2 separate regions of the Homo sapiens genome follow, and region 1 is linked to region 2. Evidence: fine-mapped expression QTL. Tissue or cell type: iPS cells. Region 2 holds a variant in brackets; the other region holds the start of a gene. All regions are shown on one strand. Distances are between the middles of the regions.

The links. PIP is the estimated chance that this variant, and not a neighbour inherited with it, causes the effect.
Region 1: LINC01050 starts here. The variant in region 2 is fine-mapped to the expression of LINC01050 in iPS cells (HipSci, PIP 0.95).

What each region holds. Positions count from the first base shown.
Region 1 is chr13:42,807,723-42,815,908 of GRCh38, forward strand. It overlaps LINC01050 (long intergenic non-protein coding RNA 1050), which reads right to left and starts at 4,840. Exons shown (of 3, transcript NR_125747.1): 1 at 4,670-4,840; 2 at 3,797-4,120; 3 at 2,644-2,908.
Region 2 is chr13:42,866,014-42,874,199 of GRCh38, forward strand. It overlaps LINC00428 (long intergenic non-protein coding RNA 428), which reads right to left and starts at 6,731. Exons shown (of 5, transcript NR_126389.1): 1 at 6,545-6,731; 2 at 4,588-4,689. RefSeq lists enhancers at 2,042-2,644, 4,268-5,057, 6,638-7,426. The variant T/C (reference allele first, on the strand shown) is at 3,894.

The sequences.
Region 1 (8,186 bases), 58 kb before region 2:
ACTACTTTTTATTATGTTCGGTACCGTTGTCTTTTCTCTACACACTCGCTCTTTGGTCAGGCTCACCTACACACACAGCTCCCAGCAGCACCTACATGTGAGAAATCCCCACCCTTTATGGCCAGCCCAGACTTCTCTACTGAGTGCTAGGTCCATATGCCCTGTCACTGGCTAGATTTCCTCCCCTTTGATATCCCATGCACACCTCAAATGTGACAAACTCACGGCAGATCTCACCCGCATCCTCCTGTAAATCTACCTCTTCTCTGACTGCCCTACGCTGGTGACTGGCAGGTCCCCCTGAGTCATAAACTTGGGCTTTGTCCTTGACTCCCATGTCTCCCCGGTTTCACTGTTCCAGCAACATTTGATCAGTTACTTAATCCTTCCTCTTAAACATCTCTCTGAGTCATCCAGCCTCTCCTGGATATTGCCTTTGTCACTGCTGAGTCTGTCTTGATTTAAATTTTTGATATTTTAATAATAAAATTTTTTTGATATTTTGTTCATCATGTATTTTGTGCACACATATTTATTTCTAAAAATATTGCATTAAAATATTATTTATTATTAATAACTTGGGGTTTTAGCACTTCCTTAAATTTTACATCAGAGATAAGCACCTCACTTGCCTTACCTTATTCTTGGTCCTGCGGACAATTTTTCTCCCACTGCAGTCTCCTATAGTATCCTGCCAGTATTGTATTTCCAAAACGTAAGTAGCTCAAGACACACCCTTGTTTCAATGCATTCAGTGTCTCCCGAGCTTTGCGATTCCACACCACCTCCACCCCTCCCCCTGGACCCTCTGATCCAGCAATAGGAATCCATGTCTTTTTCTTAAGGTGGCCCCACTTTTACATCTCTGTGCCTTTGGAAACAACAATAGCCTTTGGATAGTGATTTTTTGACTATCCTTTAGTTATCTGGGATGGTTGGAAACTGGTTATCCTTGCAAATAGCTCAATGCTTAGGCTTTTACTGATAAAATCTAAATTTCAACTATACTGTATCAAAATCCATCTAAAACTTATGACACATCTCTGTGGTCTTCCATATATAACACATTCATGACTTTAAATGCTCTTTATGACTCAGCCTCATGCTAAGCCTCAGTTATGGTGCTTTTCTATAATCCCGTGATGCCAACCTCAGGAGCCATTGAGATTTGTAAGCTGGTGCTATAATCTAAATGTTTGTGTCCTTCCCAAAATTCATACGTTGAAATCCTCAACTCCCAAGCGATGGTATTAGGAGGTGGGGCTTTGGGGGAGGTGATAAGATCATGAACCTTCATGAGTGGGATTATTGTCCTAATAAAAGAGGCCCAATGGAGCTCATTCACCCCCTTTCACTATGTGAGGACACAGCTAGAAGGCGCCATCAGTGAACCAGGTCTTCAACAGATGCTGAATGTGCTAGCAGCTTCATCTTAACCTTCCCAGCCCCCAGAACTGTGAGCAATACATTTCTGTTTTAAAAGCTACCCAGTTTTTGGTGTTTTGTTACAGCAGCCTGAACTGGCTAAGACAGTCAGCTTGCCCCTAAACTCAATGTTCACATACAATTCATTCTTTTTCTTGTTTGGTTGTATTCTTCCAGAGTATCTTCTTGTTCCTTCTGATCTCTGCTCCCTGCTGTCACTGGTTCTGCTTTTTATTCTTCATCCCCAATTGCTTGGTCTCATTCCATTTTCTTTTTCCACATAACTCCAGCCTTAACCTTGGTCTTTGTCACTGTCTCCGCTGTCTGTGCCATCCCAGTACTTCTCTTTGTGGGTGCTGACAGGGCTTAATAATAAAGCTAGCCAGGTGCGGTGGCTCATGCCTGTAATCCCAGCACTTTCAGAAGCTGACGCGGGTGGATCACTTGAGGTCAGGAGTTCGAGACCAGCCTGGTCAACATGGTGAAACCCCGTCTCTACTAAAAATTCAAAAATTAGCCAGGCGTGGTTACGCACACCTGTAATCCCAGCTACTCAGGAGGTTGAAACATGAGAATCACTTGAACTCGGGAGGCAGAGGTTGCAGTGAGCAGAGATCATGCCACTGCACTTATGCCTGGGTGACAGAGCAAGACTGTCTTGCTCTGCCTAAAAAATAAAATAAAAAACAAAAAGTATAACCTTAGCCAGCCTATGACTGTGCTGTCTTTTGCTCTGCTAACTGATTCACCCATTTTATTATTCAGTCGCTGTATTCTTGTCTCCTTTCTTCTCCTTTTACTTTTGGATGTGCCATTGTTCTGATTAGTTGAGAGGTGCCGAACAGATAACTAATTATGGCAGTGTGAGCCACAGGATAATTCTCAAGTGATCTCTGCTGTAGCATGTCCCCACATAGGGCATAGTGGGCAAGGTTAAGAAGGAATTCTAACCTTGAATACCTGAGGACCTGACTCCGTTCTCATTCTCTATCCCTGTGCTCATCAGAAAATGCCAATCCTAAGCTATTTGGGTGGGGTTGGTTGGAGAGACATGGAAAAGTACCCTGGGCAGCTGAAGTGCCTGTTAAATCTTACCCACATTTGAACAAATTCACTCTAAGTTGATTTGGTTCTCCTTTAAAATGAGAGAAAGCAAGGACTTAGACTGCCAATTGCCCCCTGAAATTATCTTTGGCTGCATTAAAGAGCTTCACAGAATGACAGTTACTTTTTATTATCAAGAGCTTACTTGTAATTATAAAGTATAGAGAATATACATATATGCCAATGAATGAAGCATGGGAACACTAATAAATTTAAAAATTCAACAGGCTCCTCAAACAACTGGGCCCAAGACAGAAACTGCTCAGAGCAAGATTTTCAAATAGATCTTTTTCTAGTGACTGAGATATTTAAGAAAAATTGGCATAAAGTAGAACCCGGAATCTTCTGTTCACTTATTTTTCTGGCTATTACATCATCCCTGAAAATAAACAAATAAATAAAGCAGGGGTCAGAGAAGGTATAGTACTTTTTGGATGCTGACTATGGATAAGGCTTTTTGCTTGTTTCCACAGCACTTCCTATCCCTGCTTTCTGTATCCTTGGAAAGAAATGTGGAATAATGAAAATAGCAAAAGGCTTGGCAGCCAGGCAGGCCCAGGTGTGATCTCAGTCCCACCATTCATTCTCTGGGTGGCCTTGGGCAGGTCACTCTAACTCTGTGAGCCAAAGGGTCACTAAAGCACCCTTCCTGGAATTCCTTTGAGGAGTCAGTGAGGGAGCACACAGTGAGTGGGGCTTCCCTTCATATCCCCTGCTCTGGGCCAGGGACCAGGACCTGGTGTCAGGGTCTTTACCCAGCACTGTACCAACACTTGCTCTCCAAAATGGGACTAGGGTGAAATTTCTTCACAGTATGAAAATAATGGCCCAGGGAACGAAGCAAATGCCAAGAGCTGAGCCTTAGGGAATGACTAGTAGGCCCAGATTCTTGGGGTGACTTCCTTCGAAGACTTCATTTGTTAACACCTTCCTTCCCTTCTTGTTAGTTTCAGTGGGAAGTAGGATTGGGGTGATTTGGAGAAGCAGTGGGGAATTTAGTTAGGGGAGACTCCTGGGTACCTGTGGGGACATAAAAAGGGATTGGTGTGGGATGGCAGGTAGAGGCCACAAGAGGAGGGCGTGAATGCTACATGAAGGAGTTTGTTGTTGTTTGGTGGAAGAGGAGGAGGTATGCATGTGAGGAGGGGTGGCCATGAGCCTGGAGCTGTCCTGCAGGGCAGCTTCTTTCACTCTGCTGCGTATGTGGTGGAGAGCTCTGACCCACCCTGCTCTTGAGTGTTTCTGAATGCTAGGAGCGGGGACAAACCTGCAAGGCTGATTGGATGTTGAGGAACAAGTATGTAAAGAGAAGTGTATACATAAAAACCAAAAATCCCTGGGGCTTTGAATCCTTCTAGAGCTCCTGGCCACCTTCTTCAGGACAGCAACTGACAGTGTTGTGAAGTGCTTGGCTTTGTCCTTCTCGCAGGCCATCTGGGCTAAGTAGTGAGATCCACGTGGCCAGGAAGGAAGGCATGCATCTCCCCAGGCCTGTGGCTCTCCTTGTATTGACCTTGCTGCTTCCTGGGCTAAGCAGCTGCAGTGAGGGTGTGTTGCCCTGAAGCAGTTACGTCATTCATTAATCCAAATTCTGAAAGACAAATGAGCATATGGTGCTAAAATACTTTTTTTTTAAAAGCCACAGTTTCATTGTCTTAGTCAAAGCAAGATTATTACGTGATTATTTTCAATTCAATATATTTGTTTTGGAGACAGTTTCTTGCTCTGTCACCCAGGCTGGAGTGCAGAGGCACTATCATAGCTCACTGCAGCCTTCAACTCCTAGGCTCAAGTGATCCTCCTGCCTCAGCCTCCTGAGTAGCTGGGACTACAGGCACCTGCCACCATACCCAGCTAACTGTTTTTCCAGTGTTTTTAGAGACAGGGTCTCACTATGTTGTCCAGACTGGTCTCGAACTCCTGGCCTCAAATGATCCTCCCACCTCAGCCCTAAATTCATTTTTTTAAATTAGCAATTTCAAGTATAACAAATTTGGAATAAAGGTTTGTTTTCTATTAATAAAAATGAATAGTGACAAAACCCCCAATATTCTAGATTGTGAGACTTCCCTCTTGTTGTAGTTGGACCACATTTAAGGACTAAATTGGAAGGAAGGAGCAAGAGGAGTCTGTGACAAACCTGTGGTTAAGCTCTCTTTGAAGAAATCGCACAGTATGGCTCCGTGCTCTGAACATGCTCTGTGTCTGCCCTTTTTCAAAGGCGAGACAGCCACCTCGAGGCCAGTCAGACCATGAATAATGGTCTAAGCCCTTGCCACCAGGATGGAGAGGTCTGAGCAGTACAGTGAAGAGGCTTCATCAGCAAGGGCTGATTCAACGGCACCTCTCTCTGGATTCAATGGCATTCTTTCTGGAGGTTAGCCCATTTCTTTAAGTCAGCTCCATCCAAGTTTGATTATCCTTCTTTGAATCTCTTCCAACAATTTGACATCCTTGAGGTTGAATAGCTGAAAACTGCACATAGCGCAGCACTCCACACAAAACACCTTTAGAAATTTCTAGTTGAGAAGAACTTGGGCAAAGTCAAATCTCCCCACTTGATTTTGTTTATGTTCCTCTCTTGGGATTTGTCTTGGGCATGTTACTGTACAAATAACTGCTATCATCATCATCATCAACACCAGTTTTAAGAATTATAATAGCAATAAAATTGACTTACCATTTTTGAGACTGGAGTTTTGTTACCTGATATGGTTTGACCCTGTGTCCCCACCCAAATCACATGTCAAATTGTAATCCCAGTGTTGGAGGAGGGGTCTGGTGGGAGGTGACTGGATCATGGGGGCGGACTTCCCCCTTGCTGTTCTCATGATAGTGAGTGAGTTCTCATGAGATCTGGCTTTTTGAAATGTGTAGCACCTCCTCCTGCTCTCTATTCCTCCTGCTCCTGCCATGTGAGACATGCTGGCTTCCCCTTTGCCTTCCGCCATGATTGTAAATTTCTCGAGGCTTCCCAAGCCATGCCTCCTGTACAGCCTGTGGAACTGTGAGTCAATCAAACCTCTTTTCTTTATAAATTACCCAGTCTTGGGTAGTTCTTTACAGCAGCATGAGAACAGACTAATACATTACCTAAAACAAATTTTGGAAACAAATCAGGTCATTAAAAAGTGCAAGCACGGCCAGCCATACTAAGCCACCTGTTCACTGTGTTGCTGGGGTTTTTTTTTTTTTTTCAATTTATTTTTTTGAGCCAGCATTCTTTTGTGAATATCAATTTCTACTGGGCAATCAGGCCATGTGGTCTCTCCTCTGGACTGGCCCCTACAGCCTTCCACACTCTGTGACACTCAGTGGCCACAGGCCCCTGGAAAATTGGATGTGTGACTGAGTCTTTAAGAGGTGGAGTGACTTACTTTAATTCAGTAAGTCAATATGTTTTAAACTCAGATTGTTTGTTCCACAATAGGAAAAAGCTGTGAAATTTCTTGTCTCAGCTCTGTCTACCACTACTTTGGAGGGGCTACAGGTATCAGTGAGATAAACCAAAGTCAGATATTCAAACTGGGGCATAAAATGTTCTGCATGAGTGTCAAGAATGGTTCTTTGGGTGTGGCGAAGGGTTCACACCTACATTTAATTTTCGAAATGTGTTTCTTAAAAATATGCCAAAAAGATACCTAGAAAAACACATATCACTGATTGAAATATGTAATGCATTTAAATATACATACATATGTATATACACACACACATATATGTTTTCATAATCACACTAATATCTGCCCTGCTACACTGATGGTCAAATATTTTGGGAGAGAACATCTGGCAGCCTACCTCTAGTCATCTTTTCCTCTATAAAACTCTTCCAATACCCTGTTCTAGCTATGCTTAACCTTCCAAGCTTATCAAACAAGTCAGGTTCTCTCTCCACTCCACACATTGCTCAAATTGCTTCCACTGCCTCAGATATCCTGCTCTGCCCCCATTCTTAACCTGGCTACCTACTCTTAGAGTTTCAGTGATCTCTTCCAGGAAGCCTTCAAACATGCACACACAAATACTTGACTAGCATCTCATGCACAGATACTTGCATACTTGACTGGTACCTCATGCTTACTTCTATCAGATGATAGCGTTGGCTACCCCGTATAGGACGATCTGTTTACTTATCTGTCCCCCGCCACACCAGACATAGGCCATCAGGTCCACCAGGACTGGTGTCTTTATTGTTGCATGTTTCCATTCTTCACACAGCACCTGGAAAATAGGTAAATAAATATTAAGTGAGTGAATGAATGAATGAATGAATGGGATGAAGGAATGAATTCTTGCTACTGACTGGTGCATAGTTGCTACGCACATCCACCTCCAATTCAGCTCCCTGCTGGAGTCTGAAATTGAAGGCTGGTGGAGAGAGGATTTGGTCTTCCTAGGCAAAATGCAGTTACCTGACTTAACCATTCACACTCCATGTGGATGGGATAAAAACACCTAAGTGAGTTTTTCTTGTCCTGGTGATTTTTGTAGCAGTTTGTGGCTCATTTTTATCAAGTCTAGATACAATTTTCTTTCATGTGCTATGAAGTCTTGGTTCCTGTAACACAAACCTCTTTAATCATTAGTCTTTCTGGTAGAATTTGATAGGGGCCATATAAAATGCTTCTCTTCATCTGCTAAGAGCCATTTATGGACACTTACTATGAGCAATATACATTGCAAAAGACCAGAAAACTCACCCTCTGCTTATGATTCAGCACTGTAACATGATAGCCTGGAAACTAGTCTGATAGTTTAATCAGTGCTATGTGATCCTTATTTGTGGTTGGCTGCCTCATCAATTTTCATTTGGGAATTGAAATGGACTCTGAGGCAGATATGGCATTAATTATGGGGGAAATTGGTTGCAATATGCCTTGAGGTAAAACCCTTCTGATGGGAATCTAAGATTGAAAGAAAGCCAAATTATAAAAGGATGATTTACTGAAAAAGGCAAATGTATGCATTACCATCACTGCTTAGCAGAGAAAAAGTTGCTGATAAACCAGAAAGATTGTGGCATGACTGAAAAGTGAGGAAAATCTCTAGGTCTAGCTCTCTCAAAAAAAAGATTTATTCTTATGCTGAATGCATTATATTTCCCCAGATACATACAACATTTTCCAAAAGTGTGCTTCAATTAATAGGCAAGCAAGCATTAATACTAGTTGGCAGGGTCCCAATTTTCTTCTAGATTGAAATATATTTACTAAGAACTGAATAGGGAGCATCTAGGGACACCAAAGTTAAAATTCATTTTACCAGTTGTAGTATCTGCTGTTGTATCAATTTTCTTGTTAAAATACCACATTTTTTTTACCTGAAGATTTCAAAAACCTTCTTAGTTAATACCCTATTTTTCCTATCACTGAATCTTGATGAGGTAAAATACAGAGGAAAAGTCATCATAGAAATGTCTATTCCCAATTTAATATGAGAAAACTGAGACATAGGAAGCTTAAGTTAGTGCATTGTTTAAAAGCAACGTATTTTTCTTAATTGGATACAAAACAGAGTGAGTTATCAAGGAAAGTACCAACTGGGAGTTAACACCCCTTCCCACGTCTCACCCAGAAAAAGGTCAGCACTGTATTTTTATAAGTTGCGATGTGTTTACCCATACCCAAGCAGAAAGTAAGGAGCTTTTGTGTTGCAGG
Region 2 (8,186 bases):
TCATCTCACCCACCACCATGCCCTCTTCCCAGGGTGCCCACAGCCAAGAACTGGTTTATAAGGAGATATAAAGGTCTGGCCCCCACTTTGTCTAGAGCTGGCCATGTGGTTGCTCTCTGTTGAGGCTGAATCATAGGCTGTGATGGTTAAGATTGAGTGTCAACTTGATTGAATTGAAAGATGCAAGGTATTGTTCCTGGGTGTGTCTGGGAGGGTGTTGTCAAAGGAGATTAACATTTGAGTCAGTGGACTGGGAGAGGCAGACCCACCTGCAGTCTGGGTGGGCACCATCTAATCAGCTGCTAGAATAAAGCAGGCTGAAAAAGGTAGAAAGAGCAGACTTACTGAGTCTTCTGGCCTTCCATCTTTCTCTCTTGCTGAATCCTTCCTGCTCTTGAACATCAGACTCCAAGCTCTTCAGCTTTTGGACTCTTGGACTTAGACCAGTGGTTTGCCAGGGGCTCTCGAGCTTACGGCCACAGACTGAAGGCCACATTGTCGGCTTCCCTACTTTTGAGGTTTTGGAACTCAGACTGGCTTCCTTGCTCCTTAGCTTGCAGACAGCCTATTGTGGGACTTCACCTTGTGATCTTGTGAGTTGATTCTTCCTAATAAACTCCCCTTCATATATACATCTATCCTATTAGTTCTTTCCCTCTAGTGAACCCTGACTAATGCATCAGCCAACTTCTCTTCCTGCCCCATCCTTCTTCCTTTCCCCTTCCAGAGGTGGTGATCCCAAGACCACTCCCTAGCAAACCTCCTGTCCACCACTCTCCATCTCCAAGTCTGCTTCCTGAGTAGGCCACAGCCTCTGACAATTGCCACTTGGTGCCTTCACTTTTTTTTTTTTTTTTTTTTTTGAGACAGGCTCTCAATCTGTTGCCCAGGCTGAAGTGCATTGGTGTGATCATAGCTCACTGCAGCCTCGGCCTCCCGGGTTAAGTGATCCTCCTCCCTCAACCTGCTGAGTAGATGGCACTACAGGTGTGTACCACCACACCTGGCTAATTTTTTAAATTTTTGTAGAGACAGGGTCTTGCTATGTTGCCCAGGCTGGTCTCAAACACCTGGCCTCAAGCGATCCTCCTGCCTCAGTCTCCCTAAACACTAGGAATACAGGCATGAGTCACTGTACCTGGCAGTGCTTTCACTTTCTGCTGTGGACTTGTCTAATGGTATACGAAACAAGAGCAGTCAACTGAGTTCCTACTCTTGTTAAACCAGAGGATGCCCAGGGATAACCCACCTCACTTTTCCCAGCCTTATCTAGACACACTACGTGGTAGACAACGATGTGATGTCCAGCTACCTCTTCAAAGGAGGACTTGAGGAGGCTGAGGCAGGAGGATTGCCTGAGCCTGGGAGGTTGAGGCTGCAGTGAGCTATCATCATGTCACTGCACTGCACATACCCCACTGTGGGTGGTACAGAGACAGCCTCTGGCCAAGACTTTGTCATGCCCATATCACTGCTGGACATCTTTCACTGCCCAATCCTGCTTCTTCTCTCTTCCACAGGTGTTGGTGCCAAATAAACCTCGGGCCCTAAACTTCTAGGCATCTGCCTCCGGAGAATCCAACCTGCAACACAACTTAACTAACACCTTCCTTTCCAGGACAGCTTATGGGGTGCTCCCTTATCAAAGAAAGGGTGCTAGCAGCTACAGGCAGCACACTCTTTTTATCTGGGATAATGGTGAGAGAAGATTTGGTGCTGTGGTCCCTGCTGGCCCCTTGATGTACCAGCCAACTGTAGTGACTTCAATTTGAGATGCCTGAAGATAGCAGGATGCCATTCAGTGCTGTCAGTGGAAAACACCGGACATTTTAGTCTAGGTATATATACAATATTTATGGAAAATAGAGGTCAAGAATTCCTGCCACATAGCATATGAAGAAAGAGTCTAAATGCTCTTGCAACAGCGGTTTTAACATTAATGGTATGCTGTATAAATCGACAACTATTAAATAATATTATTTGGTAACTTTCATGCACGTCCGTGTGAAGAGACCACCAAACAGGCTTTGTGTGAGCAATAAAGCTGTTTATTTCACCTGGGTACAGGTGGGCTGAGTCCGAAAAGAGAGTCAGCGAAGAGAGATAAGGGTGGGGCCGTTTTATAGGATTTGGGTCAGTAAAGGAAAATTACAGTCAAAGGGGGTTTGTTCTCTGGCGGGTAGGAGTGGGGGTCGCAAGGTGCTCAGTGGGGGTGCTTTTTGAGCCAGGATGAGCCAGGAAAAGGACTTTCACAAGGTAATGTCATCAGTTAAGGCAAGGACCGGCCATTTACACTTCTTTTGTGGTGGAATGTCATCAGTTACGGTGGGGCAAGGCATATTCACTTCTTTTGTGATTCTTCAGTTACTTCAGGCCATCTGGGCGTATACGTGCAAGTCACAGGGGATGCGATGGCTTGGCTTGGGCTCAGAGGCCTGATATTCCTGCCTTCTTATATTAATAAGAAGAATAAAACAAAATAGTGTTGAAGTGTTGGGGCGGCGAAAATTTTTTGGGGGGTGGTATGGAGAGAGAATGGGTGATGTTTCTCAGGGCTGCTTCGAGCGGGATTAGGGGCGGCGTGGGAACCTAGAGTGGGAGAGATTAAGCTGAAGGGAGGTCTTGTGGTAAGGGGTGATATTGTGGGGTTGTTAGAAGAAACATTTGTCGTATAGAATGATTGGTGATGGCCTGGATACGGTTTTGTATGAATTGAAAAACTAAATGGAATAACAGAAGGAGAAAAACAGGTATAAAAGGTCTAAGAATTGGGACGACTCAGGATGTCTGATTAGAGAGTGTTTAAGGAGATTTGGCATAGTCCTGCCAGCAAAGATTATTTATTTACTTCAAGAGTTAAGAGTGGCAGTTTGGGGATAGCACCAGGAGATATCAGCTGTGATGGCTTGGAAAAACAGTGTAAACTGGCAGTGTAAACAAGAGCAGGGCATGTATGAGTAGTTGAGAACGGTGAATAGGAGTATGAGTAGACAGAAGATAGTAGGGATGACAAGTTTTTTTGTTTTTTTTGAGGCACAGTCTAAGTTGGTCTGGTGTCTGGAATGAGACTGGGGCGTAATAAAAAGGAGTGTCTATACAGGACCTTAAATGGGCTGTACCCTGTAGCATTACGAGGACAGGCCTGAATTCTGAGAAGGGAAAGTGGTAAAAGTATTGTCCAGTCCTTTTTAAGTTGGTGGCTGAGCTTGGTGAGGTGTGTTTTTAAAAGACCTTTAGTCCATTCTACTTTTCTTGGAGGACCATAAGGGATATAAAGGTTTCACTGAATACTAAGAGCCTGAAAAAATGCTTGGCTGATTTGACTAATAAAGGCTCATCTGTTATCAGACTGTATTAAGGTGGGAAGGCTAAACTGAGGAATTATGTCTGACAGAACGAAAGAAATGACTGCGGTGGCCTTCTCGGACCCTGTAGGAAAGGCCTCTACTTATTTTGAGGGCCTCTAAAAGTATTAAAGCAGCAGCAGCCGCTGCACGCAGACATGAGGGCTAGGCTAAAACAGTAAGGTCAAGTTGTTTGGACAGAAAGGCTACAGGGTGTGGTCCTGGCTCTTGTGTAAAAATTCTGACCGCGCTAACCATGCCTAGGAAGGAAAGGAGTTGTTTTGTAGAAGGTGCTTGGGTTTGAGAGATCAGTCGGACACGATTGGCAGGGAGAGCACGTGTTTTTATGAGAATTATGCCGAGATAGGTAACAGATGAGGAAGAAATTTGGGCTTGATTGAAGTAATGGGGGCTGTCTGAGAAGCTTTGCGGCAGTACAGCCTAGGTAATTTGCTGAGCCTGATGGGTGTCAGGGTCAGTCCAAGTGAAAGCGAAGAAAGGCTGGGATGAAGGGTGCAAAGGAATAGTAAAGAAAGCATGTTTGAGATC[T/C]AGAACAGAATAATGGGTTGTAGAGGCAGGTATCGAGGATAGGAGAGTATATGGGTTTGGCACCACGGGGTGGATAGGCAAAACAATTTGGTTGATAAGGCGCAGATCCTGAACTAACTTGTAAGGCTTGCCTGGTTTTAGGACAGGTAAAATGGGGGAATTGTAAGGAGAGTTTATAGGCTTTAAAAGGCCATGCTGTAGCAGGCGAGTGATAACAGGCTTTAATCTTTTTAAAGCGTGCTGCGGGATGGGATATTGGTGTTGAGTGGGGTAAGGGTAATTAGGTTTTAATGAGATGGTAAGGGGTGCATGATCGGTCGCCAAGGAGGGAGTAGAGGTATCTTATACTTGTGGGTTAAGGTGGGGGGATACAAGAGGAGGACGCAAAGGAGGCTTTGGATTGGGAAGAAGGGCTGCAATGAGATACAGCTGTAGTCCAGGAATAGTCAGGGAAGCAGATAATTTAGTTAAAGTGTCTCAGCCTAAAAAGGGAACTGGGCAGGTGGGGATAACTAAAAAGGAGTGCTTAAAAGAGTGTTGTCTAAGTTGGCACCAGAGTTGGGGAGTTTTAAGAGGTTTAGAAGCCTGGCCGTCAATACCCACAACAGTTATGGAGGCAAGGGAAACACGCCTTGAAAAGAGGGTAATGTGGAGTGAGTAGCCTCCGTATTGATTAAGAAGGGGACGGGCTTACCTTCCACTGTTAGAGTTACCCGAAGCTCGGCATCCGTGATGGTCTAGGGGGCTTCCGAGGCGATCGGCCGGTGTCAGTCTTCAGCCGCTAAGCCGAGAAGATCTGGGAAGGAGTCAGTCAGAGAGCCTTGGGCCAGAGTTCCAGGGGCTCTGGGAGTGGCTGCCAGGTGAGTAGAACAGTCCGATTTTCAGTGGGGTCCCACACAGATAGGACACGGCTTAGGAGGAATCCCAGGCTGCGGGCATTCCTTGGCCCAGTGGCCAGATTCCCGGCACATGTAGCAAGCTCCTGTGGGAGGAGGTTCTGGAGGAACGCCTGGCCGCTGCCGTTCAGGCATTTGGAAGTTCTTGTGTGCTGGAGATGTGGCTGGGGTTTGTCTCACAGTGGAGGCAAGGAATTGCAACTTTTTTCTATTATTGTACACCTTGAAGGCGAGGTTAACTAAATCCTGTTGTGGGGTTTGAGGGCCGGAATTTAATTTTTGGAGTTTTAATGTCTGGAGCAGATTGGGTAATAAAATGTATTTTGAGAATAAGACGGCCTTTTGACCTTTTAGGGTCTAGGGCTGTAAAGCGTCTCGGGGTTGCTGCCAAACAAGTCATGAACTGGGCTGGATTTTTATATTTGATGAAAAAGAGCCTAAACGCTTCTGATTTGGGATAAAGAAAAAGGAGCATTAACCTTGACTATGCCTTTAGCTCCAGCCACCTTTTTAAGAGTAAATTGCTGGGCAGGAGGGGGAGGGCTAGTCACGGAACGAAACTGTAAGCCCGACCAGGTGTGAGGAGGGGAGGCGATAAAAAGATTATAGGGTGGAGGAGCAGAGGCTGAGGAAGAATTGGGACCTAGCTCGGCCTGGCGAGGAACAACCTGGGGAGGAAGGGAGAGGTCAGATGGGTCTGCAGAAAAGGAAGATTAGAAAGACTCAGCGACACTTGGGGTTGGTACTGAGGGGACAGGCGGGAGGGAAAGAAGGAAGATTTGGGACGAGTTGCACTGGTCACAGAGACTAGGAAGGGACTGATGTGTAAAAGAATGCCTGGACGTCAGGCACCTCAGACTGTTTGCCTATTTTACGACAAGAATTATTGAATTTTGCAGGATGGAAAAATTCAAAGTGCCATTTTCTGGCTATTTGGAACTACTGTCGAGTTTGTATTGGGGTCAAGCAGCATTGCAGAAGAAAATAAGGCATTTAGGTTTTAGGTCAGATGTGAGTTGAAGAGGTTTTAAGTTTTTGAGAACACAGGCTAAGGGAGAAGAAGGAGGAATGGAAGGTGGAAGCTTACCCATAGTGAAGGAGGCAAGCCCAGAGAAAAGAGTAGAGACAGGGAGAAGGGGCGGAGGGTTCTTGCCCTCCAGGAAAGCAGAGAAGGGGTTGGGGCAGGGAAATAAGGGATTGGGGCACAGAGATAAGAGGTCAGGGTGCAGAAATAAGTGATTGGGGCACAGAGATAAGAGGTTGGGGTGCGGCGGAAATAAGCGATTGGGGGGTTCTTGCCCCCTAGGAAAGCGGGACTTGCCGCTAAGGGTGAAGGAGAAGGGGTTGAGGGGTACTTGCCCCTGCCCCAGGAAAGCAGCACTTGCTGCTAAGGGTGAAGGGGAAGGGGTTGAGGGGTACTTGCCCCTGCCCCAGGAAAGCGGGACTTGCCGCTAAGGGTGAAGGACCAAGGCAGGCGTCCCTGCATGGTCTGACACCCTTGAAACGTGAGTGTATACTCAGAGAGGCGTCCCTGCAATGATCAAACACCAAGGGAAGGCTGCCTTCCCAGTCCGTGACCGGCGCCGGAGTTTTGGGTTCACGGATAAAACATGTCTCTTTTGTCTCTACCAGAAAATGAAAGGAATTGAAATTAAGAGAAGGGAGAGATTGAAGTGTGGCGCCACGATTGAAAGGAGAAAGAGGTTGAGGGATAGTGAGGGAGGTTGGAGAAGAGAGTAAAAAGAGGCCGCTTACCGGATTTGAAATTGGTGAGATGTTTCTTGGGCTGGTCGGTCTGAGGACCTGAGGTCGTAGGTGGATCTTTCTCATGGAGCAAAGAACAGGAGGACAGGGGATTGATCTCCCAAGGGAGGTCCCCCAATCCGAGTCACAGCACCAAATTTCATGCGCGTCCGTGTGAAGAGACCACCAAACAGGCTTTGTGTGAGAGCAGTAAAGCTGTTTATTTCACCTGGGTGCAGGTGGGCTGAGTCCGAAAAGAGAGTCAGCGAAGGGAAATAAGCGTGGGGCCGTTTTATAGGATTTGGGTAGGTAAAGGAAAATTACAGTCAAAGGGGGTTTGTTCTCTGGCGGGTAGGAGTGGGGGTCGCAAGGTGCTCAGTGGGGGTGCTTTTTGAGCCAGGATGAGCCAGGAAAAGGACTTTCACAAGGTAATGTCATCAGTTAAGGCAAGGACCAGCCATTTACACTTCTTTTGTGGTGGAATGTCATCAGTTACGGTGGGGCAAGGCATATTCACTTCTTTTGTGATTCTTCAGTTACTTCAGGCCATCTGGGCGTATACGTGCAAGTCACGGGGGATGCGATGGCTTGGCTTGGGCTCAGAGGCCTGACAGTAACACGTTTTAACTTTGCAAAAAATGTTTTGGCATTAATGGGCTCAAAAAGTGAAAGGAAATGTGTAATGGAAAATCAAATACTTTGTTCATGAGAATGTTAATGACAAACCTATAAATCCCAAAATGTTTATCAACACTTACCATGGGGGCTATATGACATCACTCACCACATGAAAAATAGAAAACACGAATCTGCTAAACTATTAGTATCTACTCTCATTCGAGAGTACATTTGAGATACATACTGTGCATGAACATGAGGACTTGACACGTGCAGACAAGGAAAGTATCCTGTGAAGCATGGCTTTTCATTTGGATCAAATGACTGCCTCTCTAAATCTGCACTCTGTGTCTGTTGTACACATACAAAAAGTGAAGCTGATGGGGTTCAGGGCATGCTGCTCCAAAATATGGTTCCTTGGCGTATTGAATATTTTAAACGGAAGAAATTTGAGGAAAACAGCAGAAGCGGGAAAGTGTCTCTGACTTTCCCCCAGCCTCCTTCCCTGATGCAGTTCATAAAACCTAGGAAAGATTTTCTGACCTTCCCCTGAAAGAGGTCATAGACTCTCATGTAAGATGTGCCCTCTCTATGCCAGGAAGAAAGGAACATCCTTATCCCTGAAAACAAAAGGTCACAGAAGGGAAACTGAACAAACTGGCCTTGCTGAGTTTCCCCAGTTTATAATCATCATGTCATACTTTTCACCCTATTATATTTCTCTATGACTCTCCTCTCTTCATCAAACCCAGCATAAAAATACACAGGTTTAAAAAATACACAGGTTTAACTGTTTCTTCAGGTATTTATTTCCTTATGAAAGCTCCCATTTCATGTAAAATGCATGTTAAATAAACATGTAAGCTTTTCTCTGGTTCATCTGTCTTTTGTTATAGGGGCCTCAGCCATGAACCTAAGATGGAGAGAGGAAAAGCTGGTCTCCTCCCCTACAAAGCGATAGATGGTAAGGTGCTGGATCCAATGGCAGAAAAAAAAGTTTCAAACAATTAAATGATGCCACTTTTATAGAAATGGA